Regions from separate parts of the Homo sapiens genome. Here all the other regions are linked to region 1. Evidence: fine-mapped expression QTL. A gene starts in region 1. Each other region holds a variant in brackets. All regions are shown on one strand. Distances are between the middles of the regions.

Region 1 (10,765 bases):
GCAGGGGGCAGTGGGCACTAGGTGGGTGGAGCAAGACGGCAGCAGGAGGGAAGGGATCAAGTTCACAGCCAAGTACAAGACTGGCTTTGGGAAGAAAGGCTCCCCGGAAACAAAGATGAGCTGGGCAGTGGCTTATGCCTATAACCCCAACACTTTGGGACGCAGAGGTGGGAGAATCACTTGAGCCCAGGAATTCGACACCAGCCTGGGCAACATAGAGAGACCCTATCTCTACAAAGGAATTTTTTTTTTTTTAATTAGCTGGGTGTCGTGAAGTACGCCTATAGTCCCAGCTACTTGGAGGCTGAGGCAGGAGGATGGGTTGATCCTAGGAGGTCAAGGCTGCAGTGAGCTATGATCATGTCACTGCTGCACTCCCTGGAAAGGAGAGGACAGGGAAAGAAGTTGGGTAACAACCATACAGGGCTTCCATTTTCCCAGCAAAAGTGAGAGATGGTGGCCAGGTACAGAGGCTTATGCCTGTAATCCCAACACTTCGGGGGCCAAGGCAGGAGGATCACTTGAGGCCAGGAGTTTGAGGTCTGCCTGGGAAATATAGTGAGCCCTGTCTTTACTTTTTAAAAAATGAAGAATTATCCGGGCATGGTGGTGCACATCTGTGGTCCCAGCTACTTGGGAGGCTGAGGCAGGAGGATCACTTGAGCCCAGGGATTTGAGGCTGTAGTGGGCTATGATTACACCACTGCACTCCAGCCTGGGCAACAGAGTGAGATTCTGTCTCCAAAAAAAAAAAAAAAAAAAAATGAGAATTAAGGTTCTCTGCAGATCTTACAGGTGAGTCAGAGGTTTGGAGGGGTCACTCTGAGGAGCATGTGCAGCTGCACACAGAGAGGGGCAGGAGGGAGACTGGATAACTTCAGTGTGTTCTGGAGCCTCGGGGAGGCCCTGGAATCTTCCTGAAACACCACCGGGGGGAGGGGCACAGAGTGTGAAAGTGGCTATCTGTCAGAGTGGTGGCTACTCAGAGAGGTGAAAGGTGAGTGGCCCAGGGTAAGCCATGTCTCAGGAGTATGTGGTCATATATCCCCATACTCACACGTGCACAAATACCGTGCCAGAGGCACAGGCACTCAGAAACATGATTCAAAATCCTGATGGTCACAGTCATATGAACAGCTGCCATTTATAGAACGTCTGTGTTACAGCTGGCACTGTGCTGGGCAGTTCACATTTTTTCTTTCTTTCTTTCTTTCTTTTTTTTTTTTTTTTTGAGACAGGGTCTCACTCTGTTACCAAGGCTGGAGCACTGTGGCATGATCATAGCTCACTGCAGCCTTGACCTCCCAGGCCCAACCCATTCTCCTGCCTCAGTCTCCCGAGTAGCTGGGACTACAGGAGTACTCCACAACACCCGGCTAATTCAAAACAAATTTTTTTTTTTTTTGTAAAGATGGGGTCTCCCTATGTTGCCCAACCTGGTGTCGAATTCCTGGGCTCAAGTGATCCTCCCACCTCTGCCTCCCAAAATGTTGGGATCATAGGTGTGAGCCCCTGCCCAGCCCATCTTTGTTTCAATTTAACCCTTACATTCCAATCTTGTGGGTTGGCTTGGATTGGCGAGTACCTCGTTTGCACATGAAGAAGTTGAGACTTGAACAAGTTAAGTAGTTGGTCAAGGACACAGTATTGTGTGGAATCTAAGCTCAGGTCTGTCTGATTTCTAAAACCATTCACCAGGATACTACCCAGGCAAAGCTGGTGTGAGTCACTAAGCCTCTGGCCTCTCACCTCTGCTCTGTCTCCAGTCCCTTCCTGCCCACAACCCCACTGCTGGGTCTTGCGCTTTAGCATCTGGGTCTGCTTCCTGGGGTCAGCCAGGGCCCTGCACCCTGGTGCCACCCCCTGCCATTTGTTAGAGAGCATGTTGGTTGATAAATTATTTCCACAGAGGCAGAAATTTTGTCTTACCCCTTGTGGGGCATTTGCACGTAAACGTGGGCCTAGCCTTAAGGCATAATGTTTGTACTGGTTAAATTTTAAGCTGTCAGAAGGCCAGCCGGGAAAATGGGGGTGGAGAAGAGTGTGTGTATATGTGTGTGTGCGTGCGCATGTGTGAGGGGGAGAGAGAGAGAGAGAGAGCGAGACAGAAAGAGAGAAAGAGAGAGAGAGTTTCCTTGGCTTCTCTCAAATCACACCCTGCCTACTCCACCCACAAGTAGCCCTTTCCATCAAAGCTCATTTCTCGCAGGTCAAGTGCCAGCTCACTCCACCTCCTCCCATCCAGACCCCTCTCCCATCCATGCACCCCGCCTGTCTGTGCCTGCATCCCCAAGGTCCCAGCGACCTCCGTGCACAAAGAGATAGAAAGGGCGAGCTGCAGCAGGAAGAGGGGAGGGAGGGAGGAAGAGAGAGCACCACAGAGGAAGGCAGGTCCAGGTGACGGAAGGGACAGCTCAGCTGCCCCTGGCCCTGGTCGGACGCCAGCCAGCCGCTCGCCCTCCATCTCAGCCCCACCCTCCCCCAGCTGTGTGTCCCTGCCTTATCTGAGCCACCAGCCCAGCCCCACCTCACCCACCACCCTCTCCTCTCCACAGCTCCCCAGGATGTGGGTGATAAGACCCGCCCACTGGGCCCTCCGAGTTTGTGCCCACTCATCCTGGCGCGCTCTTCTTCCAGGCAGAAACTGATCCAGACTGTGGCTCCCCTGGACTTTTAGAAATGAAGCCTCCGCAGGCAGAATGGCAACTTCGGGGTGGAGGGCCCCTGGTCTAGCTGTGCTCCTGTTTCCAGCCAACCACTACCTGCTTGGTGGCAGCCCCTGTATACTTGGGACTTTCATACATCGTCTCTAAACCTCACACAAAACGACATTCTCCTCATTTAGAGATGAGCAAAAATGAAGCTGAGAGGTGAACTTGCCGAAGGCCCCCCAAATAGAAGCCAAGCCAGAATCCCTACCCCGGCCTGCCTGAGGCCAAAGCCAAGTGCTCTTTTCAATGAGTACCAAAGATCCCAGTTCAATCAAAATGTGGGACTTGGGGGTCCCACGTGCTAACCTTAGACAGTGGAGCCACCCAGAGTCCTGCTCGTTGATGGCATCTGTAGAAGAGCAGCTGGGAGTGTGGGGGCCTCTGGCTCCGGGCCACACAGGCAGCAGGGTCCAGCCAGGCTGGAGGCCGGCTGGTGCAGACAGTAAGTGAATTATGAAACGAGGCAAGTCATCCAAGCAGGCTGGCGTCGGTGGGCAGGGAACTTTGCCCCGCTTCGCCTTCTCCTGTTCTGTTCACAGTGCGACTGCCTGGCCCTCTCTCCCTTTCTTCCTCCTGTCTTTCTGCTTTCTCTTCTGGTCCCTTTTCTTGGCTTTCTTCATCTTTTCTCCCTCCCTCCCTCTTTCCCTTTCACCCTCTCCCCTACCCAGCCCCACCCCCGCAGTTACTGTGGCAACAATTCAATGCCAGAAATAAAGGCAGAATCCAGCTAGGTCACCAGTTCCCAAAACAGCATCCTGGGTGGGGAGGGGCAGGGAGGGTGGAGCAGTGCGGCGCTGCAGGGCAGGGGCCAGGCGCTCCCATGGGTGCTGTGCATGCGTGTGATGTGGGTGGGGTAGGGCACCTTGCTCCCCGCACCCCCCCGCCACTGGAAAAGGACACCAGGAGGCTGAGGCCTGCTCTGGGCCAGTGGCTCATCAGAGGTGTCCCTTACTTAGGCGAAGCCTGAACTCCAAGTCTGTCCTAAGGCTGGCAGAGCCTGGGGACTCCCTCCTCTTCTCCCACTTTCTCCCTCTCCCCTACTCCAATGTTTTTTACCGTTGTGTCTGCTGGGATGAGGGTTCCCCTAACCCAGCACTACAGGGCACCCTCTCATACTCGGATAAAGGACCAGGCCTGGGTGGGTGGGGAGCCCAGAGTCCCCCTGCTCAAGGCCTGCCCTCCCTTGTTCTCTCAATAACAACAAAACCGGGCCCAGGTGCCCCCTCCTGCCTCTCTAGCCCACCCAGAGACGCATCTGTGCAGCCATCTTCTCCTAGGTCTCTCTCTGGTTTGGTTTCTATGTGCCCTCTCCACCCACCCTCTGAAGAGACCCCGCTTTCTGCTTTCTGCATCCTGCAGCCCCCTCAGGCGGACTGCTTCCCCTCCATTTATAGCTGGTCCTGTTGTACAAGTGGGACTGGCAGAGCTGGGGGAGATGCAGCCTCAATTCAGCTTTCTGGATCCCAGGGCCTCCCTGTTCCAGTCCCACAACACCCAGGAGCTCTAGGAGAGGGATTCTGCAGACATCCACCCACGGGTGGACAACCTCACCCAGGAGTCTAACGCCTGACCACAGAGAGGCCGGCAGCACGGACACAAGATGGACAGGTGGGCACAGGCAGAAGCGCCCGCGCTGAAACCGTTGCAGGACGCATGCACGCGGGGAGACTCCGAAGCCCTGTGTGCCAGCTCATGCCCCCACTCTCCCATCGAGGCCCCCTCACTGTGACACATGGTGCTGCCAACACCCGCTCACACCCACCCACCGGTCCTCTCCCTGGCATCCATCCCAGAGTAGTGCACGTGTACAGCAACATACACAGAGCCCTCCACTTACCCAGCTCTGGAGGCCTTCCCTGGGCTCCCCATTCCCACAGCCCAACTGCCTTCCTTGTCTTGGACCTGTCCCTGCTCCCCTGACTCTCACAACCAGGCAACTGGTCCCTGGAAGGGACACACTGGGTGTGTCTGCCCAAGAAAGGGGGCTGGACCTGCTAGGCCCTGAGGGACAGAGCTAGGGAGGGGGAGCCCCAGAACCCTGTGGGGGCTGCATGTCTGCTCAGCCCTGGCCCCTTCAAGCACCCCAGCGGCGGGCACAGGGGGAGTACTGGGCTTGGGCTTGCAGCTGCGCCCTGCCACAGCCTCACTCTTCACTCAGCCCCACCCCAGCCTGGCCAGCCACTGGCTGGGGGCAGGCTCTCCTCCCACTCCCCCTAAAAAGCAGGCTCCAAACAAACAGCCTCAGGCCCCTAAATGTACTGCTCCAACCCCCAGAGCATGTGGAGTGGTTTTGGGGAGGCCAGCGGGCCAGTATTCAGCAGAGAGGGAATGCTCCCCTGCCCACCCCGTGCCCCCACAGTCCATCCCTTCCATTGCTGGCCTGCTCAGCTAGGTAGGCCAGGCAGAGATGCTGGCAAAGAGGGGATTGGGCTGGGAGCAGTTCTCATCCTTGGGATGAGAACACCCCAGGCCCTCTTCCCCAGATCAGAAGGTTCCATTAGATCAGGCCCAGCTGGTCCCAGGGGCCGGCCCATCCTCCCACTGAACAGGGCCCACAGTGGGCTCCCCCCAGATACCCTGCTGCCACCCAAAGCCTGGCTCGCCAGCAAGCGCTGTGGCCCAGAGTGCCCACAGAGGGGAGGAGAGGCGGAGACCCTGCCACCTACCTCTTCCCAGACAGTGTGGCCCAGACGCTCTGAGGCCACAGAGGCCCGAGAGGCGTAGGCCAGATCCACGGGCTGTCACTTCCCCCAGGAGCCTAGGTAATAGGTGTCTCTTCCAGGAACCCCGCGGCGCTTCCCCGGAGCACAAATAACAGGAAAAATGCCGGCTTAGGGTGGGTGGGCGGGGTGGGAGCTGGCGAAGGAGGGGAGCTGGTCTCGGCTGAGCGGTCTGATCTCCCCTCTGGGCCCCCACCCTCCTTGCCCCCACCCTGCTTCTCTGCAACGCACGGCCGCCTGGATCCCCCGGTGCTGGGGAGTCCTCGTCTGGGGGCGGGAGGGCGGGCGGGCTGCTGGCTCCCCCACGCCCTCCCCGCGCCCTCCCCACTTCCAGCTGATAGCGTGTGGCTGGCAAGGGTGTGTGTGTGGATGTGCGCGCTCTTCCACCAGCGCTGCAGCTCAATCCATTTCAAACAAGAGGAGCATTAACCCAGCGTCATGACAAAGCAGAATCAGCCAGCACTGTCCTCTCCCTTTCCCACACCGCAGTCTGCAGCACTCACACGCACACACACACCCACACGCACCCAGAGCCCCTCAGCCTCCTCCTAAACAGCCAGAGTTCAAGTTGCTGTGGGCGGTGGGTCGAGGGAGGGGGCTACTGATGACCCAGGCGGACAATGCCTGCTTTCTCCAGGCACCTGCACCTCCTACCCTATTCATGACCACCCCACCATCTGACAGCAGCAACTGAGGCCTCTGGGGCCCAGCCTCTTGAGGTGGGGGTGCAGGCACAGGCCAGAATTGGTTACCCAAGGATGAGCTCTCTCCTGGGAGGGTAGAATGGAGGGATGCAACCAGGTCCTCAGTACTGAGACTTGAGCTGGCCCCTCAGTAACCTGAATCCCCTGGGAACTCCAATGGGATGCAGCAGAGAGAGAGAAGGACCCCATCTCTCCCTAGGGTGGCTTCATGAAAAAGGAGCTTCCTGCCTGGTAACCCCTGGGTCCCAGCACAGAATTTACAGGCATGTGCCTTCCCTGTCTCTAGCAAAGCCTCAACCACCCCAGGAGCCTCTCATTGGCCTTTCGGGCCCCCTGGGCAGGATGGGGAAGGACAACAAGCCTTGCCCTCGACCCTCGCCCTGGCCCCAATGTCCTCTCCACCTCCACACCGCAGACTTGCCTACCTAGGCAGCCCTCACCGTTGCCCTGGCAACCCTGCCCCCAGCCGGTCAGCTGATGGTATCAGCTGTTGTTGGGGAAATCTAGAATCTGGGGAGGGGGCTCTGGGGTGTCTGAATGGAGAAGCACAGGGGGAGGGGCTTGAGGGAAGAGGCCAGGAGGGGACAGAAAGTATCTGGCTGGTGGGGACAGAGAGGACAGTAACCTGAGGGATGGGCTCCAGAGAGAAGGGAGGAAGGAAGGAGGCAGGTGGCTGAGAAGGGAGACAGAACACAGGCTGAGCTGCTGCAGCCAGGCGGGGGTGGCTGTGAAGGTAGAGAAAACCTGGGGGTGGGGGATGAAGCATCAGATCCATGGAACTGCAGAGAAAAAGGCCAGGAGAGTGATGTGGGAGGGGGCATACCTTCAATGTGGCAGAAAGGGGCACAGCCTTGGAGGAGGAGCCACTCCAGCCATCGCTCCACAACCAGCCCGGCCTCAGCCCAGCCTCTCGGCTTTCTGTACCTTCAACCCCACCCTTACTTCCCTCTAATCAGAGTCTGAGAGACAGAGGGGAAGCCCCAGCCCCACTCCAGCCCTAGATGATCTCTCTCGGTCCCTCCAGCGGACCAGGTACTTGGGGCTTTGACACCTCAGCCCTTTAGAATTCCTGATCCCCGCCGCACCCCGACCTGGGTTCCTCCCCTGTATTGCCCCTCCCCCACCAGGCCCCACCCCAGGAGAGCTGTCTTCTGGTGCAAGGGTCCCCAGAGGTAGAGTTGGAATGAGCTGATGCCAGGAAGGACAGCTGTGGCCAGGGGCCTGGAACGAGGTGGGTGATGAGGAATGGGTAGAATCGCTGGGCCTGGGAGGAGGGGTGCCTCCTCCTATTGAAGCCAGTGCATGTAGGGCAGAGTAGGGGGAGTCAAGGGGAAAGGGCGGAGGGGAGAAGGAGGGGAGGGTGCTCGGTACCTTCAAGGGCCCAGGGCGTGGGGCAGGAGCGCAGCAGCCTCCTCGGTGACATACACCTCCATCCCTCGGCGCATCTCCTCTCCACCTCCTGTTGCCAAGACAACCTGCCGGCAGCTCAGGCCCGGCTCAGCCGCGGCAGCAGGGAGGGGGGGAGGAGGAAGCTGTGCCTCCCGCTGCCTCTTCCTCAGAGATGGAGGGAGGGGGCCTGAGGGTGGGTCCTCAGTGCTGGGGCTGGGGGTTAGGGGACAGCTTCAGGAGCTAGGGTGCCCAGTGAACCCCACCAAGTACCCCATCCCCCCACTTCCTTTCATAAGGCTCTAGAATTGGCTTTAGGGGTGACCCCAGGAGAACCCTAATTCAGGGCTGGAGAGCAGGCCAGTCTTGAAGAGTATGCAGCACTGGGGAGAGTCCCCACTCCAGGAAGCCCAGTGTGGAGCTCGGGACAATGACAGGCAGCAAGGCAGGGACAGTCCTTGTGCTGAAGGGCCAGAGGGGTTGCTCCGGCAGGGTTCAGAGGCCCCTGGGCGCTGGCTGCACTGGGCACGCGGCTGCGGGCCCCACACCTCTGCCGTCTCTGTGAGCACCTTCACCTGGTCCCAAACCCTCTCTCATTCCACCTGAGAAAACTCAGAGCAAGGGACAGCTCTCTTCCAATTCCTCAAGGCCCCATTCCCACTGTCCCCCACCATGCCTGAGTCTCACATTCTATCGGAATGTCCCTCCATGGGTGGGGCGGGCGGGCCACCTTGGGCAGGAAGAGTGCTCAGCCCAGCCAGGCCTGGACCCAAGGGGACTGCAGAGTGAGGGCTCCCTCTGTCGACCTGAGGAGTGGTAGCTGCCAAGGTCATTTTGCTGCCAGGGATCTGGGCTGTGTGTGTGTGTCTGTGTGTGTGTGTGTGTGTGTATTGGTGGTGGGCGTTCAGAGGGGAGGCAAGGGGACCCTTCTCACCCATGCCATCCTCTGACCCTACCTCGTCACTGTCCTTGTCCCATGGGAAGACTCACTCTGCCTCCGGCCTCCTCCCCCTGGGAAGGCCTCTGACCTCTCAAGGCCAGCTGAACTGAACTCCCCCATGGCTTGTCTGAGAGGGGAGATTCTCCCCCTTGAAAGCTGGCAACACTGAACAACAGGTGCCTGTTGGCTCAGGCCCCAGGCGGGTGGGCTTCCTCAGCTCTGCTCCATACTGAGCAGGCAGGAGGCGGCTGCCAGGGCTCTCATACCTTTGGAAGTTCAGGAGTTCTCAGGACCTTGAGGATGGGCGCTTGTGTCCACAACACGGGGCCAGGATTCCTGTATCTCTCAGGCAGGGGGGTCCCAGGCCCCCCGACGCCCCGTTCTTGGCTCCTTTCCCCACAAGGTCACTGGTGCCAGATGTCCTGGGTGGACTCCGGCCCTGCTGCCTCCTCCCTCCCCCAGGCCCTGTCGATAGGCTTCTCTGTCCACGTCTGGTCTGTCTCACTCCAGTGCCCCCCGGCCCCACCCTACACACCAACCTGCTGGGCGGGGGAGCTATCTAAACATTAACTTCGGGAGAGGTGGAGCCAGGGCACCTGGACACTCAGGGAGGAAGGAAAGGGTGACAGAGACCTGAAGAAAAGGAAGGATGAGGGCCCCAAAGCCACCATTCTCACCAGAGATTGGGAGCCATGTGCCCCTGCCTCCGGGCATTGGACTCTGCTGCCCAGACCCTAGAGCCTCCACTCCTTCAGCATGCTGCCACCAGACCACTGCATCTGGCCCCCGCAAAGCCCCTCACCATCTCCTCCCTGCCACAGCATAAGGACCAAACTCTTCATCATTTGATCCAATCACTTCCTGCCACTTCTCTACACAAATTTCAGCTCCAGCCAAGTAGACGGACTATTCCCCTTCCCTGGAGCACACCTCCCATTTTGCCGCCTTGATTCTCGTGCCCGTTTTTCCTCTCGTCATTTTCCGCTCTGTGCATATTTTCTCCACTGAAATCATCTGAAATCATGCAAACCCCAGACCTTCCACAAAGCCCCCGCAAGCACCCTGGCCTGTGCTCTCTCCTGCCCCAGAACTCACGATGCCTGGGCACACTTTGCAGGCAAAGTGTGGAAGCCGGGCAGAATCTAGAGTGCAGTGCTCACTAGCTGTGAGACCGTGAATGGCCTGGCATTTCTGAGTGTGAACTCATCCACATGTGCTACATGGGAACATCTCACTGCCCTAAAGAAGGATTGCAAGCAAGTATGCCCTGAGTGTGGCCTAGCACATCTCCTGAGCTCGGTACATATTAGTTTCCTTATTCCCAATAATTCTTATCTCCCCTTTCCCTCTTTGGGGACGTACGAAAAAAAAAAGGTTGCTTTGTTATGTCATGTGTAAGAGAGGGTTTTCCAAAAGTCCCACCAAAGAACAAATAATTGCCTTTTTATGGGTTTATCCCTCCAATTAAATTTCAAGTGCCTTGAGAGCTCTATCTTGTCCATGTTTTTTATTAACAGAAGGATTAGCACAGGACTTGAATGTTGTGGGGGGAAAATAAACACTGGGACTAACTGCTTAAGCCCCCGCCCCACCCACGTCTGCCTAAAGAAGGAAGGAGAAGGCAGGATTCTGGCCTCTCTCCTGCCTCTGCCTAGAGGGATGGTGGGGTGTTGGGCCAATGACTTCTTTCTAGGGCTTCAAGTGGTTTATTTCCTCAATAAACATTTACCCTGTGCAACATACTGTGCTGGGCACTGTCGGGGAGGAAAAGATGGACTATTTCTACATCTGGGGCACTTGCTATTTAGCGGAATCATGACAAGCACATACATCATGACAGTTCTGGACAAGCTGTGACATGTACCACAAGGCAAGGGCAAGTGAATGGCTGGCAAGACCAGTGGCAGTGGAGACAGTCGCTCATCCCGGGGTAGTGCCAAGAGCCTATGGAGCAGAGGAGGAGCCTGCGGTCTGGGTGTGTGTGTGTGTGCTAGAGCAGGACACGCCAGGTGGCGGGGACCCTTCAAATGAGAATGGGGACATGCTTGCTTGATAGAGTTCCAGTTTTCCAGTATTCTTAAAGGGGAGTTGTGGGGCTAGGGCCGAATAGGGAGACTGGACAGGGCTGGACAGGAGTCTTAAAGATGACGCTAAGGAGTTTGGCCGGGATAGTGTGGCGTGGGTAGAGCTGTGGTTGATGGTAGGGAAGGTAAGTGGAGCAAACTCGGATGTACTGGACTGGAGGGCAGTGTTGAGAGGCACAGAGATGATGTAGGGAGCGAGTGGATATTTAGATAGATCCCA
Region 2 (10,765 bases), 98 kb before region 1:
CTTTCTGCATCCTCTGATCCTAAATTTGCCCTGAGAATAATACTCACCCAAATACGATCAGCTTTGAGGACTGTCTCCTTCTCTTTTCTCTGTCTTTCCTAGTGCCTTCCCAAAGCCATCTCTATGTATTTACGAGGTCAAATCTGCCAATGACTTTGGGCTGGCTCACCCTTTCTCTCAGGTTCCCTTTCACTCCTTGGGCCAGGTGGTCTCTAAAGTCCCTTCACCTCTAAACTCAGGTGACTGTGGCAGAGTCCAGGCCTGGGCTCGCTCCCTTAACCTCCTATCCTTTTGTTTTGTTTTGTTTTGTTTTGTTGTGAGACAGGGTCTCACTTTATCACCCAGGCTGGCATGCAGTAGCGAGATCACTGCTCACTGCAGCGTTGACCTCCTGGACTCCGGTGATCCTCACACCTCAGCATCCCAAGTAGCTGGGACTACCAGTGCATGCCATTGTGCCCAGCTAATTTTTGCTTGTTTTATAGAGATGAGTTTTCACCATGTTGCCCAGGCTGGTCTCGAACTCCTGGGCTCAAGTGATCTCGGCCTCCTAAAGTGCTAGGATTACAGGTGTGAGCCACCATGCCCAACCAGCCTCCTGTCCTTTAACATGCCACCCCAGTTCCTGTCCCCTGCCCCAGCCCCCTCCCACCTGGGCCCTGCCCTTCGGTCATGAGCTGGCAGGTTCCCCTGTCCCCCTCTCCATCTGGAGGGCCTTCAGCCCCAAGGTTGCATAACAGCATGGCATCTGAACTGAGAGCCCCTGAGAAGCGCAGGGAGGAAGAAAGGGAGGGAAGTGTTTGCTCCCACCACCCTCCTCACCCCCTTGCTGCCCCTTTAAATATTTGCCTAAGACTCCAGCAGCCAGAGAGTGTCCTAGGACAGTGAAAGGAGGGGAGGGGTGCCGGGAGGAGGGGGAGCCCACAGAAGCATCCTCTCAGCTCGGCCTCAGCTGTGTGCAGGTGCCAGATGTGGGAGACAGCTCGCCTGCAGTGCCCACCCCTGCCCTCCCCCAGGGCCCTTACTCCCGCCCCCATCATCCTGGCAACATTGGGATTGATCGGCTGACTCACGAGTACTGGGCCTGAGCCAGGTGGGCAGCTGGCCAGCGGGAGAGCCAAGCACTGCAGGCATCTCGGGGTCCCTGTGGGCATCTCGGGGGGCCATGTTGTTCTCACGTGGGACTTGTTCTTAGCAGGCACTGTGGGTGGGGTTTGCCGCCATCGCTGGGTGCTGGGAGAGGGATCTCTTTCTTTGAAAAAGCCTCTGCTCTTTCTGGTCCTTGGTCTCCCCTGCCTGTTGCCCTTAGGCTGTAGCTGTCACAAGCTCTGTGGCGGCTGCTGCTGCTGCTTCTTCTCCTTCTTTTTTTAAACCCATTTTTGCTTGCTTGAGGGCTGAGGGAGGGTGCCTGCCTCCTGGAGTGCTCACACCAACCAAGTGAAGGTCTTGGGTTCCTTGGAGAAGGAGACACAGAAGGACCTTTAGCTGGGTGTGCCAAATTTCCCCCTCCCCCTACCAGCCCTGTCTGCAGCCTTCTCACTTTTTGGCCTGTACTTAAGCCGTTTCTCCCTCTGTGAAAGCCCACCTCCAATCCCTCTCCACTTCTCCGGTTTTATTTTTATTTTATTTATTTAATTATTTAGAGACAGGGTCTCACTCTGTTACCCAAGCTGCAGTGCAGTGGTGCAATCACAGCTTCATAGCTCACTGCAGCGTTGATCTCCTGGCCTCGTGTGATCCTCCTACCTTGGCCTTCCAAAGTGCTGAGATTACAGGCGTGAACAGTGCATCTGACCTTCCACCTCTCTGAATGCCACCCACCCAAACAGGCCAAGAGCCAATGGCACCTGCTCTGCGACCTCACTCCAGTTCATGGTGCCCTCTGAAATCCTCAGCCTCTCTGTGGCACCTTCACCTGCCATTCAGCACACATGAATGTTCCCATGAGTTACATGGGCGCTTTTTGTTGCTCTATCTTCCAGCCCAATTGCGGGCCCTGGGAAAGAAAGGAGCACGCTTCCTGCGGGCTTCTTTGAACCTGCCACTGGGCAGGAAGCATGCAAACAGCCAACACTTAATGATAGTCAATGATGAGACCAATACCAACAGCGGTCAATAGTCCATGCCTTCAGTATGTGGAGGTCTCAGTGCTTCCACTGGCCAGCTCTGGGACCCAGCGTGAGTCGTTCTGCTTTGTTAGGCATTAGTATGTTCATCTGTGAGATGGGTCAGGTACTAGCTGTCCACCTCACTATGCTATTATGAGGACCTAATAGCATCATGGGTGTGACATCCAGTCATCCTCATTAGCATCATCTACTTCATCCTCTAGGGGACCTCTCACTAGCTAAGAACACAGCCCAGACTCACCCTCTTTGTCTGTTTCTGGGTTGACTCCCTCTGAGAGCCCTGAGTGATGGACAGCCCCACGGTGGCCACCCCTTCTGTGTGGGCCTCCCCGTTTCCTCCTCCAGCCCCTCAGCTGCAGGGGTGGGGACAAGATTCACTTTGCTCTTTGTGTACTGGGCAGAGCCGTGCCAGGGACGGGTGGGGACAGTTGCCCAGCTGCCCCAGCCACCTCCCTACCCTCACTGCTTCCCTCCCCCCAAGCTGGCATGGGGAGGGCGGCTAAATGTGTGGCAGCAAGGAGACATCAAAGGGCAGGGGCATCCCTGGCTGGGAGAACACAACTTAAGCTCAGACCAGAGAATCCCCTGCTGGCAGAGTCTGGGGACAGCTGGGGAAGCATCTTAAAGCCAGTGGTCTTCGTTCCCTGGACTGGTGTGCAAAAAGCACAAGACTAGAAGCCCAGGCAGCTGACAGCCAGGCTCCCCTTGCCCCGTGCCTATGAGCTCTTAGGACAGTCATCCTCCGCCACAGGGGAGCTAACGTGGTAGAGAGCAGCAGTCTTCAAGCTTTTTGTTTTCAGGACCCCTTAACACTCTCAAAAAGTATTGAGGACCCCCAAGAGCTTTTGTTTATGTGGGATATGTCTGTTGATATTTACTGAGAAATTACATTTTTATTTACATGTGAATTTAAAATATCAGTAATAAACCCAATATAGGTTATGACATAAATCACATTTTTAATGGAAAAACGATTTTACAAAGCAAAATTATTTTACAAAGCAAAATAAAATTAGAGAGAAAGTGTCATTTCTTTACAGTTTTGGAAATCTTTTAAATTTGGAGCTTCATAGAAGTGAAAAGGGCAAATCATGTCTTAACAATATTAGGAAAATTGTTTTTACCTCAGAGACTTCCTGAAAGGTTCTCAAGGACCCCCGGGCTCCCAGGGCTACACTTGGAAGAGCCGTGCATGGAAGGACGACCGTGAACCTTGAAGCTGGGCAGAGTGGGCGGAAATCCCTGCTGATACCTTTTTCTTCTGGTGCGACAGGCCTCACTTTTCTTGTCTGTAAAAGGGAATTACTATCACCTGCCTCAAACGATTGAGAGGATTAAGTAGGGAAAGTACAGAGCACTTGCGATAGCAAGCTTAGGGGGCCTCAGTTTCCTCATTTGTTAGACAAAGGGCTGGACTGAAAAATATCCAAAGCGCTTCCCAGCTTTAACAGGCTGTGGTTGAGCGTGAGAAATGTTCCAGAATTCCACACAGTCCCACTCCAGCTCCAGAGGCTGCGTTTCCCTTTTCAGCTCATGCTGACACAAAGGTACATTCTGTTCAGCGGCGCGTGGAAAAACATGTGAATCCGGTTAGAAGCGCACTTCAGACTCCTCCAGGACGCCCTTGTGCTTCTAATCTTGCATGCTAACTTAGATATGCGTCTGTCACTCACGACATGCCCATGATGCTGCCTAGGGGATGTGTCCCCCCATGCAAAGAAACCCAGGTAGACAGAAGCACAGGGATCCCTAACGCCGAAGCGCCTCCACAAGGCAGTGAGTGCATGTGCCCGTGCAGAGACAGGTGAGCACCGGCGCGCACAGTCGTGCCCAGCAGAGGCACAAGCACAAGCTCACACGCATGCACTCACGCGCAGCCCCACACGCG[G/A]ATGGCCCCAGAGACCGCCCGGTAGAGCACACAGCGGCCACGCCTCCCCTTCCGTGACTCCCAGGCCCCGCGCCGCCCCGCGCGCGCCCCCGCCGCCCGCGCCGCAGTCCGCAGCCACCCGGCGCGGTCAGCCCCGGCTGCGGCTCCAGCTCCGCGCTCCGCTCTTCTCTCCCGAGCCGGATCGCGGGAGCGAGCAGGGGAGGGGACCGCAGCCGGCGCCCGAGGGCAGGAGGAGTCCGCAGGCGGGCCCCTGGCTGCGGTAGCAGCTGCCGGTGGCAGGGAGGTGCCAGCCCGCGCGGGGTGGCCCAGCCGCGGGAGCGGTGGGGCGGGGGCCGCGGCCGCCGGCCCCAGGGAGAGATCGCGGGCAGCATGGCGGGGCTGCGGGCCAGGGGGGGCCCGGGGCCGGGGCTGCTGGCGCTCTCCGCGCTCGGCTTCTGCCTCATGCTGCAAGTCAGCGCTAAGAGGCCCCCCAAGACGCCCCCCTGCCCGCCCAGCTGCTCTTGCACCAGGGACACCGCCTTCTGCGTGGACTCAAAGGCGGTGCCCAGGAACCTGCCCTCGGAGGTCATCTCCCTGTGAGTGTCCAGCCCTGGCCTTGGGGGTTGGGGAGGGAGAGGAGGCCGAGGACAGCTCTGGGAGAGGACAGGAGAACCCCCGCTCCCCCTCTTCAGAGTGCGGGGACCAGGGGGACTGCAGGGGTCCTCAGGGCTGGAGATTCCAGGCACCAGTCGGGCAGGGAGTTCTGCAGTTTTGCAGGCTCAGCGGCCATGGGTGGGGAAAGCAGGAGTTCACCACCAAGAATGAATCATCATCACCACGAGCGACAGTGAGACCTACTGTGTGCTGTGCTCCAGACTTGGGGGGGTTGCTTACACGAGCATGTGGGCCCCTGCCTGTGATGTCACACCAAGGGCAGGAGAGTGGCGGCCAGAGCAGGATGAGAATGAGCTATGCCCTCCCAGCACCCTGGCATGGGGCACATGCCCGCCACTGACCAGCCACTTGGCACTCAGCTCGGCCAGCCTGTCACTCACAACAGCCAGCCTCAGGGGCTCCCCCTTGTCTGTGGGACCAGAGAGGTTGTGAGGTCCTTGGGGACCAGGATGCCAGCCCCCACCCCCATGCCCCATCTCTCAACAGCACCCAGCCCATTGTGGGTGTTTGGATGATGATGACAACGGTGTGGGTGATGGAACCTTTTCTTGCCTGAGAGGGAAGCTGAGCCTGGGGCCATGGGTGCCCCAAGAGGCAATAGGGGAGGACCCTGGTGAAGGCAGGCAGTGAATTTGGGAGGAGAAGGGAAAGACACACAGATGGGGGCTAAATTAGGTGAAATGGGGCATTTCCAGGGCAAGTGAGTACAAAAGCTACTGCCCTCCGTGTTCACCTCTCCCTGCCTCAGCACAGCCCTTGCAGACCCCACAGTACTGACTCGGGTGTCCCCGCAGGACCCTGGTGAATGCCGCCTTCTCAGAGATCCAGGATGGAGCGTTCTCCCACCTCCCGCTGCTGCAGTTCTTGTATGGATAGGGCCTTGTGGAAGGGTTGGGGGAACTATGGGGTGGTAGCAGGGGACAAATCCTGGGCTGGGGAGAGGGAGAGTGGACAGAGGCAGCCTCTGCAGACGAAGATGCAGGTGTCCCTTGCTTTTGTTCTGATAGGATGTACCCAAAAGACGGGGCAGCCTTGAGTCAGGGGAGTCGGGGCAGCAGGAGGACAGCTAGGGATGGCACAGAGAAGCCAAGCAAGTGGGATGCGGGGATGGGCTTGGCTGCTCTGGAAACCCCAGAGAATTGGGTGCGATAGCCTGGGCTAGTGCCCAAGGTGGGCACTGTGGGGCCATCTTAGAGACAGGTGATCCCAGGAATCAGAGTTCCCAGAAAGAGCTGGGGGCTGAAAGAAAGGGATGGCAGGAGTGTCTCCAACCCTACAAGATGCCGTCCATGAGGGACAGTTGTCCATGAGGGGCTGGAATGGGACAGAATGAGGGTGGGGGAGAGGGAGAGGAGATGCCACCCGGGAGGACCAGGAGCTGGCTTGACAAGAGAGCTCTGCCTTGGCCCATGTTTAGGATCCAACAGGGACCCTGGGAGCTTCTGGGGCCAGAACAGGCTCCTGCCTGGCCTTGTTGCCCAGGTGGCCCAGGGATTCCCCATGGGGTCCCCAGGGGTAGCAGCAGGGCAGTCATGTCTTGGGGAAGCCCAGGGCTGAGGCAGCGGGCTGGGGGCTGGGGCAGCAGGCACACCCTTGGAAGCTCTAATTCCACCTTTGTCTCTGCAGGTTACTCAACTCCAACAAGTTTACACTGATTGGAGACAACGCCTTCACAGGACTGTCGCACCTGCAGTATCTGTGTGTGGGAGGGAAAGGGGCAATGGGAAAGCAGAAGGGAGGGGGACCCCAGGCCTGGGAGGCCGAGGGACTGGGTAGGGAGTGGATGAGAATGCCGCAGGAAGGGAAGGTGATGGGAGGCGAGAGCCCTTGCATCCCGTGATGGCAGGACCTGAGCAGAAGGTCGTTTCATTCATTTTGCCTCTACCCTACCTGATGCTCTATCTCTATGGCTTGGTGATGCCAGACTCCATTTGGAAACCTGTCTCGGGGACACGGGCTGAAATCTAGGCTGGGGCGTAGGGCGAGTGCTGCTGGGGGTCTGGCATCCTGTGTGAGCACTGAGGCAAGTTCCCGCTTTCCCCAGCTTCATTGAGAACAATGACATCTGGGCACTATCCAAGTTCACCTTCCGAGGACTCAAGTCCTTGACTCACCTGTGAGTACGTCACACATACACACACTGCACCAAAGCCCCACCTCTCCTGTGGCCTTTGGCCTTGCTCATGATCTTCAGATGACCTGGCGGTCTCTTTTGCAGCTCGCTGGCCAACAATAACCTGCAGACACTGCCCAGAGACATCTTCCGGCCCCTGGACATCCTGAATGACTTGTAAGGCCTGAGTCCTGCCTCTTCCAACAGTGCCGCAGAGGGCGCATCCCTGGAGGGAGTGGTGTGGGAGTCAGAATTGGGATGGTCATAAGGTCTTGAGAGGCTGGGAAGGCTTGGGTGGGGGGACCCTGAGGAGGTGAGGAGGTGGAGTTAGATATAGATGGTAGCCTTCCAAATTGGAGTTTCTCTCAAAGTGCACCTGAGACACCATGTGTGTATGTTTTCAAAATGTGTGTGTGTGTTTTTTTTTTTTTTTAATTATAGACGGAGTCTCACTCTGTCACCCAGGCTGGAGTACAGTGGCACAATCTCGGCTCACTGCAACCTCCACCTCTCAGGTTCAAGCGATTCTTCCTCAGCCTCTGGAGTAGCTGGGACTAAGGGACTATAGGTGTGCGCCACCACGCCCGGCTAATTTTTTGTATTTTTAGTATAGACGGGGTTTCACCATGTTGGCCAGACTGGTCTCGAGCTCCTAACCTTGTGATCTGCCAACTTCAGCCTCCCAAAGTGCTGGGAGTACAGGTGTGAGCCACCGCGCTCAGCCAAAAATGTGCTGAGCCACCGTGCTCAGCCAAAAAAAGGCTGGGTGTGGTGGCTCACGCCTGTAATCCCAGCACTTTGGGAGGCCAAGGAGGGCGAATCACCTGAGGTCAGGAGTTCCAGACCAGCCTGGCCAACATGGTGAAACGCCGTCTGTACTAAAAATACAATAATTATCTGGGTGTGGTGGCGGGCGCCTGTAATCCTGGCTACTTGGAAGGTTGAGGCAGGAGAATCACTTCAACCTGGGAGGCAGAGGTTGCAGTAAGCCAAGATCATGCCATTGCACTCCAGCCTGGGCGACAAGAGCAAAACTCAGTCTCAAAATATTAAAAAAAAAAAAAAAAAAGTACTTTAAAAAATTTTTTTTTTTTTTAGACAGAGTCTCGCTCTGTCACCCAGGCTGAAGTGCAGTGGTGCCATCTCAGGTCGCGGCAACCTCTGCCTCCCAGGTTCAAGCAATTCTCCTGCCTCAGCCTCCTGAGTAGCTGGGATTACAGGCATGCACCACCACACCTGGCTAATTTTATATTTTTAATAGAGATGGGGTTTCTCCATGTTGGTCAGGCTGGTCTTGAACTCCCGACCTCAGTTGATCCACTCGCCTCTGCCTCCCAAAGTGCTGAGATTACAGGCCTGAGCCACTGTGCGCGGCCAACATGTGCTTTTTTTTTTTTTTTTTTTGAGACGGAGTCTCACTCTGTTGCCCAGGCTGGAGTGCAATGGCGTGATCTCCGCTCACTGCAACCTCTGCCTCCCGGGTTCAAGCGATTCTCCTGCCTAAGCCTCCCAAGTGCTGGGACCACAGGTGTGCGCCACCATGCCTGGGTAATTTTTGTATTTTTAGTAGAGATGGGATTTCACCACGTTGCCCAGGCTGGTCTCAAACTCTTGACCTTGTGATCTGCCCACCTCAGCCTCCCAAAGTGTTGGGATTACAGGTGTGAGCCACCATGCCCAGCCTGTGCTTTTTAAATGTATGTTTGATTGGACTCTACATTAAAGTCCAATCAGCGGGAGGGGATTTTGAAAGTTTCGAGTAAGGAATATATAGCATATAGTAGTATATAGCAGAGCCACACTCATTTATTGTTATTTATAAGAAAATAAAAGCCTTGGATTGTGGGAGGCTTAGAGGAGCAGGGATGCAACATACAGCTGTGCAGGATGCACACTGCAAAAGCCAACCTAGCCAAAGAAGTCAGCAAGGACTGAAACTGATTCCATACTCTGCTGGCCAAGCCTGTGTCTGTGGGGCTACATCCAGCCAGAGGGAAACTTTTCTCTAATCTTACAAAGATGCATGTGAGCAACTTGCAGCAGCCTTGACCAGCTCTATTTCTGAAAACCTGGAGGGCCTGGGTAGGCAGAGCCCTGAGAGCATGTCTTTCTCTGTGCCCCCCTCCTCTGCCCTCATGATGCAGGGACCTGCGGGGCAACTCACTCAACTGTGACTGCAAGGTGAAGTGGTTGGTGGAGTGGCTGGCACACACCAACACCACGGTGGCACCCATCTACTGCGCCAGCCCGCCCCGCTTCCAGGAGCACAAGGTGCAGGACCTGCCGCTGCGGGAGTTCGATTGCATCACCACAGGTAGGAGGTGCCCCTGCCTTGGGTGTCAGTCCACGCCTACCCCAAGGCAGCTTTACAGACACGAAACCCCCCACCCTGCCCCACAACACCCAGCGGCAGCAGTAAAGCAACCACCATCACCCAAGCAGCCCTTCCCTTCTCCCTCTGGTCTTCAGTAACGCACCTCTCATCTTGCAGATTTTGTGTTGTACCAGACCCTGGCCTTCCCAGCAGTGTCGGCTGAGCCCTTCCTCTACTCCAGTGACCTCTATTTGGCTCTGGCCCAGCCAGGAGTCAGTGCCTGCACCATCCTGAAGTGGGACTATGTTGAGCGGCAGCTTCGAGACTATGATAGAATCCCAGGTACCTGCGCCCAATCTGGTTCTGCTGGCCCTTGCTAGGGGGAGGGGGGAGTGGGCTCCATCGTTCAACCCCATTGAGTTCCTGTAGGTAGAGGGATAGATGAGACATACCCTCTGCCCACAAGAACTTTCCAGTCTTTGGGAAGAGGCCAATGTATACACCGATAACATCCATATGATAGGCAGGTGTTAAGAGGGAGATATGAACATGATGCTCTAGCAGCACAAAGGACAAGCCTACCCTGGGCAATCAGGGAAGGCTTCCTGGTGGAGGGGGGATACCCAAGCTGAGTCTTGAAGAATAGAGGAAAGGGAGAACTCAGAGGTGATCCCCAGGTTTCTGGCTTACGTAATTAGATGGACCGGGAAATGAGGAGGAGACAGGAGTGACTGTTGAGCAGTTTTGGATCTACTGAGTTTGATCTGAGTCTTGAAAGCTGAAGGAGACTTAGCTAGGAGCAAAAAAGTGGAAAGAGTGTTTTGGCAGAGGGAACAGCATGAACGAAGTCAAGGAGGTGTGCAGTAACTTAGTATGTGAGTGTGTATATGTGTGCAAATCATAAGCAGCTTGTATGAAAAGGGATAAGGTTCAAGGTGGGGAGTGGCAACGAGATATTGATGAGTACCAGGTCATTGACAGGGTTTAAGCAGAATGTGTGATCCAGTCTGCATTTTAGAAAGCTTCTTGCATGGAAAAAGGCTAGGTGTGGGGCCATACATGAGGGCAGAACAGTAGGGGGATATGTGCCTGTCTGCTAGAGGGGTGCTGGAGCCTGGACACGAGACAGTAGCAGTGGGGATGGAGGGAGATATTTAGAAAGGAGGGTTAAACCGCCAGGTGCGGTGGCTCACGCCTGTAATCCCAGCACTTTGGGAGGCCGAGGCGGGTGGATCACGAGGTCAGGAGATTGAGACCATCCTGGCTAACACGGTGAAACCCTGTCTCTACTAAAAATACAAAAAATTAGCTGGGCGTGGTGGCAGGTGCCTGTAGTCCCAGCTACTCGGGAGGTTGAGGCAGGAGAATGTCATGAACCTGGGAGGCAGAGCTTGCAGCGAGCCAAGATCACACCACTGCGGTCCAGCCTGGGTGACAGAGCGAGACTCCATCTCAAAAAAAAAAAAAAAAAAAAAAAAATAGAAGGCTTAAACTGACACAAGATGAAATAGAAAACTTACATTGCCCTGTCTCCATTAAGGAACTTGAAGTCAGTATTAAAGAAAAAAACAAAAACAAAAACAAAACACCTTCTCCTAAAAAAACCTCCTGGCCCAGAGTGTTTCCCTGGTGAATGCTATCAAACATTTAAGGAGGAACTAACACCA
Region 3 (10,765 bases), 18 kb before region 1:
CCTTCCCAGCCTTACCCCGGCTTCTTCTTCTTCACCAGGCAACTCTGTGGCCCCACACCCCCCTTCCCCTGACACTTTCGGGTGCCAGGACCCAGCTTCTGCTGCTCTGCCTGTTCCCCTCCAGGAGGCACTCACCTGCAGGCCTGCGGGAGAGAAGGGGCATGGGTCAGATGCAGCTCTGAGGTCAGCAGGCCAACACGCCTGACCTCACCAGACCCCTGCCCACAGCCCAGACCCCGGCTGCCCAGGGACCTGTGTAAGCCCCTTCTCCAGACCCCGGCACCAGGCCCCACTTCTCACCTGGGCTTCCAGTCTCACTCCCTGATGGGCTGAACTCTGTGGACTGTAGCTAGAAAGGACACAAAGGAATCAGAGGCAGTCGGGGATATTCACCTTTGGTCCCCTTCACTTTGGGGGTCTCCCCGCTCCCTGAGGGTGCCCAAGTGGCTCAGTCCCTCAGCACCCCACATGCACGTTCCTCCCACGTAGTCTATATCTCTGGTCCTGAGACCTTACCCGGCTCAGGGTGGTCCTGCCATAGGCGGGGAGAGAGGAAGATTTAGACGTTCCCTGGTGCAAGGCTGGAAGACAGCAAAAGGTCCTGAGTTCAGTCCCTTTGGCCCTGACAGCCCTTCCTGAGACAGCAACCTCACTGGCCTTCCACAGCTGGGGCAGGGCAGGAAGGGATCACGCTGGGGGGAACCTGGTGGGCTTCTGCTAGCTCCCAGCTCCTACTGGTCACCTTCAGCAAGCAATACAGTGCTGGTGGTTCTCAGCTGTCTCTACCACCATCCCTCTTCTCTCCAGCTAGAAGTGGCCCAAATATACAACTGGGCCCAATGCCTGATGTGAAAATTGAGTCAGCCAGAGCCAAGGCTCACATCATAAAATGAACCTCTGGGATACACAAAGAAAACTAAAATCGAATCACAATAATTACATTATTATAATTTTATTAACAATGTTAGTAATCAAATCTAAAAAAAAAAAATTTTTTTTTTGGCCAGGAGTGGTGGCTCATGCCTGTAATCCCAGCACTTTGGGAGGCCAAGGTGGACAGATCACCTGAGGTTGGGAGTTCAAGACCAGCCTAACCAACATGGAGAAACCCTGTCTCTATTAAAAAATACACCGTGCCCGGCCAAAAATTTTTAATAGAGATAGGGTCTCACTATGTTGCCCAGGCTGAACCTGAACTCCTGGACTTAAGTGATCCTCCTGCCTTTGCCTCCCAAGTACTGGAGCTACAGGCATGGGCCACCTGCTCAGCTAGTATTCATATTTGTTTGTTTGTTTATTTATTTATTTTTGAGATGGGGTCTCCGTGTGTCATCCAGGCTGAAGTGCAGTGGTGTGATTATAGCTTTCTGTAGCCTCAACCTCCCAGGCTCAAGTGATTCTCCCCATCTCAGCCTCCTCAGTAGCTGGGACTAGGGGCATGCGCCATCAAACCCAGCTAATATATATATATATATATATATATTTATTTATTTATTTATTTATTTTTATTTTTTGTAGAAACCAGGCCTCACTATGGTACCCAGGCTGGTCTTGAACTCCTGGGCTCAAGCAATCCTCCCACCTTGGCTTCCCAAAGTGCTGAGATTATAGGTGTGAGCCACTATGCTTGGCCTAGTAATCAAATTTTAAAAGTCTGACATTAGGCTGGGCACAGTGGCTCACACCTGTGATCCCAGCATTCTGGGAGGCCGAGGTGGGTGGATCACGAGGTCAAGAAATCAAGACCATCCTGGCTAACATGGTGAAACCCCGTCTCGACTAAAAATACAAAACAAATTAGCCGGGCGTGGTAGCAGGCACCTGTAGTCCCAGCTACTTGGGAGGCTGAGGCAGGAGAATGGCGTGAACCTGGGAGGCGGACCTTGCAGTGAGCGGAGATCACGCCACTGCACTCCAGCCTGGGTGATAGAGCGAGACTCCATCTCAAAAAAAAAAAAAAAACAGTCTGACATTATACTACAGAAAGAGTCATGTTCTAAGCACTGTCACTGGGGATTGTACCAGCAGTCAACAACTTCACATCAGCATTACTGGACCTCAGTCTCAACTTGCACATTTAATAGGATCTCTAAATTCTGAAGTACTACAGATTATAATTCAGGAAAATTTGTTTCCAGTAATATGTTTTCCTGGAAATAACTTTGTACCTAAGATCCTTAGCTTGAGGTGATCTCAAAATGCCTTCACCTCCAATTGCTGGAAATGGCTGGCATTTATACCAACTGTTTCCACA[AG/G]CATTTTTGTATAAATAGTTAACCTCCATAGATTCAAAACTATGAGGAACTATCTTAATATATACATATATATGTATATATTCACATATATACATATATATGAATATATGTATATATGTATATATATATTTTTTGTTTTTTGATACAGAGTCTCACTCTGTTGCCTAGGCTGGAGTGCAGTGGTACAGTCTTGGCTCACCACAACCTCTGCCTCCCAGGCTCAGGTGATTCTCCTGCCTCAGCCTCCTGAGTAGCTGGGATTACAGGCACGCGCCACCATGCCCAGCTAATTTTTGTATTTTTGTTAGAGACAGGGTTTCACCATGTTGGCCATGCTGGTCTTGAGCTCCTGACTTCAGGTGATCCACCTGCCTCAGCCTCCCAAATTGCTGGGATTACGGGTGTGAGCCACTGCACCCAGCCTCTTCTTAAAATACTCTTATGAAATCTGTTGCTTGGAAGCATTCGATTATTGAGAACAAAACCTCATTTTTACCCCTAACACTTATTTTTATTTAGAAAATAGCTTTCACAATCACCATTCACTATTGAAGCATTTCACTCTTAGAATAATAAGTACACATTTATTCAACCAACTGATAGAATTTCAACCTTCAAACCCTGCACGAAGATTTTCCCCTCCAAATTACTTCTATTATAAAATGCTTACGTGTGTTCCAGAGCGACTATTCCAGTGTCACCATTTAATCAGAATGACATGCCTGTTCATGATTCTAGAATTCAGGTTGTTTAAATATGACAGTAACCTATGCAGTCATGTGATCATTAATCACCCACAAGTTCAGGGACGCCAAAGATGATCCAGAGGTAGGCATCTGGCTATTTCAACTTCACGAGGCCAAAATGGAAGTTAAAGAGCTAATCTGGGCTGAACAGAAGATTCTGGCAGAACACTGACACTGAATCCAACCTTCACGCATCCTCTCTCCACATCATTCTTTAGGCCTTAACTCTTTATTCCACATTCTCTAATAAACCTCTGTAGCTCTTCCCACCCACAGAGACAGCATCCTGAGAGCTCTGGGGAACACTCAGATGTCCTAACCACATGTTAACCTTGAATTCCCCAGTTCCAGTGGTTTTCACCTCTGCTCCACATGAGATAACCCTTTCAAAGAGCCATGCCCAGGATCTTGTCATCAGCTGCACCACGCTGCCTAGAAACTGTGAGCTTGGACCATTCACTTTGTGGCTTTGGCTCAGCTCCATCCCCACCACCCAGCCCAGCAACCTCATGGAGAACTCCAGTTTCTTCATTCCCCTCCTACCTCCCCCACCTCCCACCTTCTGTCACTACCTTCTCAGTTTCGGCTCTGTGGCTGGGCACAGCAACTACTTTTATCAGCTCCTCCATGGTGCAGCCTGGCCCCTCAGCACCTATCCTTAAAAACGCTAACCCAGGGTCAACCCAACAGCTCCCATCCTGCCCCCAGCTGTGGACATACAGCCCACACAATGTAGATGAGCATCACTACAAAGGCCAAGCCTCGCACGTTTCTCCTCCCCTCCACGGCAGTTCCAAACCCTCGCCATTCTCACCAAGTCTCACCCTCTAACGCTCAGCAGACAACCTCGGCTTCTCATCTGGCCTGCCCCTGGATCCAAGTTCCCATCCCACAGGGGAGGCCTTTGAAGGCCAGCCTCCCACACATTCTGGGGCTCGATCTCAACCAGTCCTCAAACCAGCCCTCTAATATATATATATGTATATGTGTGTGTGTGTGTATATATATGTCACCCAAAAAAGAAAAAATAGGACACCCAGGTGTCACCCAAAATAGTGTGTATATATATGTCACTATATATATATGTCACTGTATATATGTGTATATATGTCACTATATATATCGTGTATATATATATATAGTGACATATATATATACACACACACATATATACATATATATATACAATTAGAGACAGGATCCCACTCTGTCACCCAGGTTAGACTGCAGTGGCGCAATCATAGCTCCCATCTTAGCCACCCAACTAGCTGAGACTACAGGCACATGCCACCACTCCCAACTAATTTTTCTATTTTTTATAGAGACAGTGTCTCACTACGTTGCCCAGACTGATCTTGAACTCCTGACTTGAAGCAGTCCTCTCACCTCAGCCTTCCAAAGTGCTGGGATTACAGGCATGAGCCCCGACTGGACCTTTAATGGAAGCCCTAGGCACCCTTCCCTCCTCTCTCTGTACAATCTTACTTTCTCCTCACCATTTTCCTGCCACATATGAGCAAGCTGAAGACCCTCAAGCTCCCAACTCTGCCAGATGCACCTTCCACCCACAGTGCTGTACATGGGGCACTTCAAACCCCACATGTCCAAAACCAGTCTCTCATCTTTCCCTGAAAATCCGCCTCTCTTATTATCTCAGTTCCAAGTTGGTCATCACCCAGCACCCAAGACAAAAACCTCAGCTTCTCTCTCTTGCACCTCCCACGTCCAATCAGCCACTGGATTCGATCCAGCGGATTCAATTGTCTATATGTTCTCAAATCCATTCCCTCTTCTCTGGACCCACATCGTTTTTTAGCCCTTATCCAGTCTATTGGAGAGTGTGGTAGATTATTTCCAAAGATGGCCTGCACTGTTGCCTCCCATCTTTCATGCTTTCTGCAATGAGACCTTGTGGTACCTGTCATCAAGAAGTGGAGTCTTGGCTGGGCGCAGCGGCTCACGCCTGCAATCCCAGCACTTTGGGAGGCCAAGGCAGGTGGATCACCTGAGGTCAGGAATTTGAGAGCAGCCTGGCCAACATGGCGAAACCCCGTCTCTAATAAAAATACAAAAATTAGCTGGGCATGGTGGTGTGTGCCTGTAGTCCCAGGTACTCGGGAGGCTGAGGCAGGAGAATTGCTTGAACCTGGGAGGCAGTGGTTGCAGTGAGCCAAGATCACACCATTGCACTCCAGCCTGGGTGACAGTGAGACTCTGTCTAAAAAAAAAAAAAAAAAAAAAAATTTAGCTGGGCATGGTGGCATGCACCTGTAATCCCAGCTACTCAGGAGGCCGAGGCAGGAGGATCATTCAAGCCCAGAAGATAGAGGTTGCAGTCAGCCAAAATGGTGCCACTGCACTCCAGCCTGGGCAACAGAGCAAGACCCTGCCAGAAGAAGAAGAAGAAAGAAGAAAGAAAAAAGAAGAAAGAAGAAGAAGAAGGGGGAGGGGGAGGAGGAGGGTCTAGCTCCCCTCCCCTTGAGTCTAGGTGGCCAGTGACTGGCTCTGGCAGCTACAATGAAGAAGTGACACTATGTGGTTTCCTCTTAGGCTTTTTTCTTTTTTTTTTTTTTGAGACAGAGTCTCACGCTGTTCCCTAGGCTGGAGTGCAGTGGCTCCATCTCGACTCACTGCAACCTCCACCTCCTGGGTTCAAGCAATTCTCCTGCCTCGGCCTCCTGAGTAGCTGGGATTACAGACATGCGCCACCATGCCTGGCTAATTTTTGTATTTTTAGGAGAGACGGGGTTTTACCATATTGGTCAGGCTGGTCTTGAACTCCTGACCTTGTGATCCGCCCGCCTCGGCCTCCCAAAGTGCTAGGACAACAGGTGTGAGCCACCATGCCGGGACCCCTCTTAGGCTTTAAGAGGCTTTGCAGCTTTCATTGCTGGGTTTTCAGGTCTTCCTCTCCTCTCCAGCCGCCAAGCTCTGAGGAAGCCCAGGGTAGTGCGCTGGATAGTGGGCCACGCCATTCAAAGCCTGCCCCGCTCCCCATCTCTTGGTCTCACTGCCCACTGCCCCACAGTGTACCCTGTACTCTGTAATTCCAGACTCCTGGAGGCTCAGCCAGCCAGATGTTTCATGTTCCCAATTTCGCTCCCACACCATTCCCAATGTCTGCAATGCGCTCTCCCACTCACTTTTTCTGGCTTGCTTGGTCTCAGCCTTCAAGACTCAGTTTAAGCTGGACGCGGTGATTCACACCTATAATCCCAACAGTTTGGGAGGCCAAGGCGGGATGATTGCTTGAGTCCAGGAGTTCGAGCCCAGTCTGGGCAACATTGTGAGACCTTGTCACTACAGAAAATTTTAAAAATTGGCCAGGCATGGTGACGCACACCTTTAATCCCAGCTACTCAGAAGGCTGAGGTAGGAGGATTGCTTGAGCCTGAGAGGTGGAGTTTGCAGTGAGCTGAGAGTGCACCACTGTATTCCAGCCTGGGCAACAGAGCAAGGCCCTGTCTCAATAAAACAAACAAACAAACAACAAACAACCACAACAAAACCCCTCAGTTTGGCCTCCCAGGCCCTGTTGCTGTGCTCCCAAAGCACCCCGCGCACCTTGATCACAATACCGGCCACACTGCATCGAAATCCCACGTTCCATGACAGTTTCCCCGCCAACAGCAAGCTACCAGAGGACAAGACTAGATTTTTTCCCTGCTTATATGCCCAGTGCCTAGCACATGGTAAACGCTCAATAAATGGTTGTTAAATTAAACCAAACTTGCTGAATTCTATTTTAGCCGATTCTCTCATTTATCATCTGACATTGTTCCATGACTGGGATTCTTGCTCCCAAGAGAGCAGCCGTGCTTTGGGTCAGGGATTGCATCCTGTATGTGTCACAAGTCAACAGATGCACAGAGTCAGGCCTCCATCTCTGGCCAGGTGACTCTGAGCCCCCTCCACAGCACTCACAGGTATGGAAGGGTGTCCGGTCAGGCAGAGAGCGGGTTTTCCTTCGGATCGGCAATGACTTTTCCATCTCTTCTTTCAAGATCATCTTTCCCAAGTTGGAAGTAACCTGAGGAGGGAGAAAGGAAGATGGAGCCAAGACTTAGACACTTGAATGTTTCTTTTTTCTCTTTTTTTTTTTCTTTCTTTTTTTTTTTTTTTTTTTTTTGAGACAGGGTCTCACTCTGTCACCCAGGCTGGAGTTCAGTGGCACAAACATGGCTCACTGCAACCTTGACCTCCTGGGCTCAAGCAATCCAACCTCCTCAGCCTCCTGAGGAGCTGGGACCACAGGCATGCACCACCACACCCAGCTAGCTAATTGTTTTTTTTTTATATACAGATGGGGTTTCACCATGTTGCCTAGCCTTGTCTCAAAATCCTGGGCTCAAGTGATCCTCCTGCCTCGGCCTCCCTAAGTGTTGGGATTACAGGTGTGAGCCACTGTGCTGGGCCAATACTCATTTCTTATCTCTAAAAGGTCTAGAGTTGGGCCATGCTGCAGGCAGGACTGCGGACATTTCCCAAGTGGCTGGTTTGTGCCCTGGAGCTCACAGAGCCTCTTGTTCGTGGCTGACACATGGCCACAATGGGTTTGGCCACCCTTGAAAGCCAGGAGTCAGCGCTGCTTGGTAGAACTCTACCACGGCGGCCTCCCTGTCCTTGTCCCAGGTCACCCTGCTCAGAGCCTAGGCCCATGTCACTGTCAATGGTCTTTCCATGGTTCTCCCTCCTCCCCTGGAGGCCTGTAGCCCATGCTCTCCTTTTCTCTCCTCCCATGGATCACTCAGGCTGCTAGCTCCCAGCTCTGATGGGACCACCCTTTTCTGTGCTTTTGACCCTTATATCAAGTAGTGTCCCCCAGAAAGCAGCATAAAGTCCAGGTGTCCCTTCAAAAGCAAAATCCTGGGGTCTTGGCAAGAAGCGGCTCCCCAACATGTTCCAAAAAGCATGCTTTTCGGGTAGGAACCCCTTCGACTAGCTACAGAGCCAGAACTTCTGTCCCCAGAAAGACACACAGGGTGGGCTGGGCATAGTGGCTCACGCCTGTAATTCAAGCACTTTGGGAGGCCGAGGTGGGCGGATCGCTTGAGGTCAGGAGTTCGAGACCAGCCTGGCCAACACGGCAAAACCTTATCTCTATTAAAAATACAAAAAAAAAAAAAAATTAGCTGGGCGAGGTGGTGGCGTGCCTGTAATCCCAGCTATGCAAGAGGTTGAGGCAGGAGAATCACTTGAACCTGGGAGCGGAGGTTGCAGTGATCTGAGATCATGCCACTGCATGCCAGCCTGGGCAACAGAGCGAGACTCCTGCACAGGGGTGGAGGGTGGGGGTGGTGAGATGCTACCTTACTGAGTTCCTCTCTCTGACGCTCCCTGAGAGCCTTCATCTCCTCTCCAGAGTCGTCATCTTCCTCCTCCTCCTCTTCCTCTGCTCCCCTCCGAGACGCCTTCCGCTTCCTCCATTCTGTCTCTAGGAGACACAAGCAAAGGTGGGGAGGGAGTCACTCGCCATGGGGTCAGTGTGTGTTTACATGGCACAGCCTCTGTGCACTGCTCTGGGCTGGACCTTGATAAGGCCACTACAAAATTTTTTTAAAAAATAAAGTAGGGTCGGTAGATGACTCATGCCTGTAATCTCAACACATTGGGAGGCTGAGGTGGGAGGATCGCTTGAGCCCAGGAATTTGAGAACAGCCTGGGGTAATATAGTCTCTATAGAAAATTATTTTAAAAAATTAGCCCGGGGTGGTAGGGCATGCCTGTAGTCCCAGCTGCTGGGGACACTGAACTAGGTGGATTGCTTGAGCCCAGTAATTCGAGGCTACAGTGAACTGTGATGGAGTCACTGCACTCCATCCTGGGCAACAGAGTGAGATCCTGTCTTAATAAACAAATAAATATTTAAAAATAAAAATAGGCCGGGCGCGGGGACTCACGCCTGTAATCCCAGCACTTTGGGAGGCCAAGGCAGGCGGATCACGAGGTCAGGAGATCGAGACAATCCTGGCGAACATGGTGAAACCCCATCTCTATTAAAAATACAAAAAAATTAGCTGGGCGTGGTGGCGGGCGCCTGTAGTCCCAGCTACTCAGGAGGCTGAGGCAGGAGAATAGCGTGAGCCCGGGAGGCGGAGCTTGCAGTGAACCAAGATTAGGCCTCTGCACTCCAGCCTGGGTGACAGAGCGAGACTCTGTCTCCAAATAAATAAATAAATATAAATATAAATATAAAAATTAGCCAGGTGTGGTGGTGGGCACCTGTAATCCTAGCTACTTGCGAGGCTGAAACAGGAAAATCGCTTGAACTCAGGTGGTAGAAGTTGCAGTGAGCCGAGATCTCGCCACTGCACTCCAGCCTGGGCAATAGAGCAAGACTTCCTGTCTCAACATTTAAAAAGAGAGTCAGGCATGGTGGCTCACGCCTGTAATCCCAGCAGTTTGGGAGACAGGCGGGTGGATCACTGGAGGTCAGGAGTTTGAGATCAGCCTGGCCAACATAATGAAAACCCATATCTACTAAAAATACAAAAAATTAGCCAGGTGTGGTGGTGCATGCCTGTAATCCCAGCTACTCAGGAGGCTGAGGCAGGAGAAATGCTTGAACTCGGGATGTGGCGGTTGTGGTGAGCTAAGATTGTGCCACTGCACTACAGCCTGGGGCAACAGAGTGAGACTCCATCTCAAATAAATAAATAAATAAATAAATAAATAAAATAAAAATACAATAAAATAAGAGTAACATTTTCTCACCTTGCCATGAAGCTGGGTAGGCAACACACACATACACACACTCATGACTGAAATTCAGTGGGTGCAGCAACATGAATGGAACTGGAGGCCATTGTCTTAAGTCAAACAAGACACAGAAAGACAAAGACTGCATGTTCTCACTCATGAGTGGGAGCTTAATAGTGTGTACGCATGGATGTAGAGAGTGGGATGATGGACCATGGCAACTCAGAAGGGTGTGGGGGGTGGTGATGGGAAATTGCTTAATGGATACAACGTGCAGTATTCAGATAACAATATCATAAAAACCCTGACTTCACCACTGTGCAATCTATGCAGGTAACCAATTACACCTGTACCCCATAAATGGATAAAAATAAAAATTAAAATAAAATTCGCTGGGGACCAAACCATCTATCATTTATCTTTCTCTTTCCCAGTGCTCCCCTCACAGAGCCTGGGATGCAGAAGTTTGATACATGTCTGTTGAGTCAGGAAATAAATGAATGGAAAGCAAATGAATGACCAATAAAAGGGCCACTTACACCAAGCGCTATGGGAACACAGAGAGTGAGTGAGCAAGGAGCCTGGGGGCTCCTGAAGGTAGGAAAAAGCCCACGAGGACACCATAGGGCAGGGGTGGGAGTGGGTTCACGGACTGCAGCAAGAGCCAAGGGGAGGGAGTGCAGGAGTTTCCCAGACCACCCATTCCACTCTCCCCATCTCTCCTACCCACAACAGCCAGAGACGGGGGGCATGGCCAGTAGTCGGTTTCGATTTTGGCTGGCTGGTTGGGGTCTGGGGGCTGGGCTGCAGGAAACTTGGATGACTCGATGATGAGATCCTCGATGAGGTGCTTGGTCTGAGGGCTGCCTCCCACGGACTCTGCAGACAAAGGCCAGGGTCAGCCAGGTGTGCCCTGCCCGAGGCCAACTTGGCTACCTTCACCCCTCCCCCCTCACACCTGTGAGGTCCTGCAGGTAAAAGCAGTGTACACGCTGAGCACGGGGCACACGTGCTGCTGTGACATGCTATCCTCCCGACCCCCTCCAGCCAGCCCGCAGCCCCAGG

Evidence for each region. PIP is the estimated chance that this variant, and not a neighbour inherited with it, causes the effect.
Region 2: its variant is the best candidate, but not a certain one, in a credible set for the expression of DMTN in subcutaneous fat (GTEx, PIP 0.86).
Region 3: its variant is the best candidate, but not a certain one, in a credible set for the expression of DMTN in whole blood (TOPMed, PIP 0.80).

Annotation. Positions count from the first base shown.
Region 1 is chr8:22,051,749-22,062,513 of GRCh38, reverse strand. DMTN (dematin actin binding protein) reads right to left here and starts at 5,700. Exons shown (of 16, transcript NM_001387751.1): 1 at 5,378-5,700. RefSeq lists enhancers at 1,696-2,657, 3,621-4,582, 10,274-10,765.
Region 2 is chr8:22,150,164-22,160,928 of GRCh38, reverse strand. It overlaps LGI3 (leucine rich repeat LGI family member 3), which reads left to right and starts at 4,123. Exons shown (of 8, transcript NM_139278.4): 1 at 4,123-4,592; 2 at 5,466-5,537; 3 at 6,298-6,369; 4 at 6,716-6,787; 5 at 6,890-6,961; 6 at 8,929-9,098; 7 at 9,276-9,440. The coding sequence starts at 4,387. It also overlaps a transcript of SFTPC not described here. RefSeq lists a cis regulatory region at 4,018 and an enhancer at 3,946-4,090. The variant G/A (reference allele first, on the strand shown) is at 4,018.
Region 3 is chr8:22,069,996-22,080,760 of GRCh38, reverse strand. DMTN (dematin actin binding protein) reads right to left here. Exons shown (of 16, transcript NM_001387751.1): 8 at 10,427-10,579; 9 at 8,311-8,435; 10 at 6,926-7,031; 11 at 517-581; 12 at 301-349; 13 at 136-143. Among named protein-coding and RNA genes, the nearest start is that of FHIP2B, 14 kb to the left of the region's middle. The variant AG/G (reference allele first, on the strand shown) is at 2,255.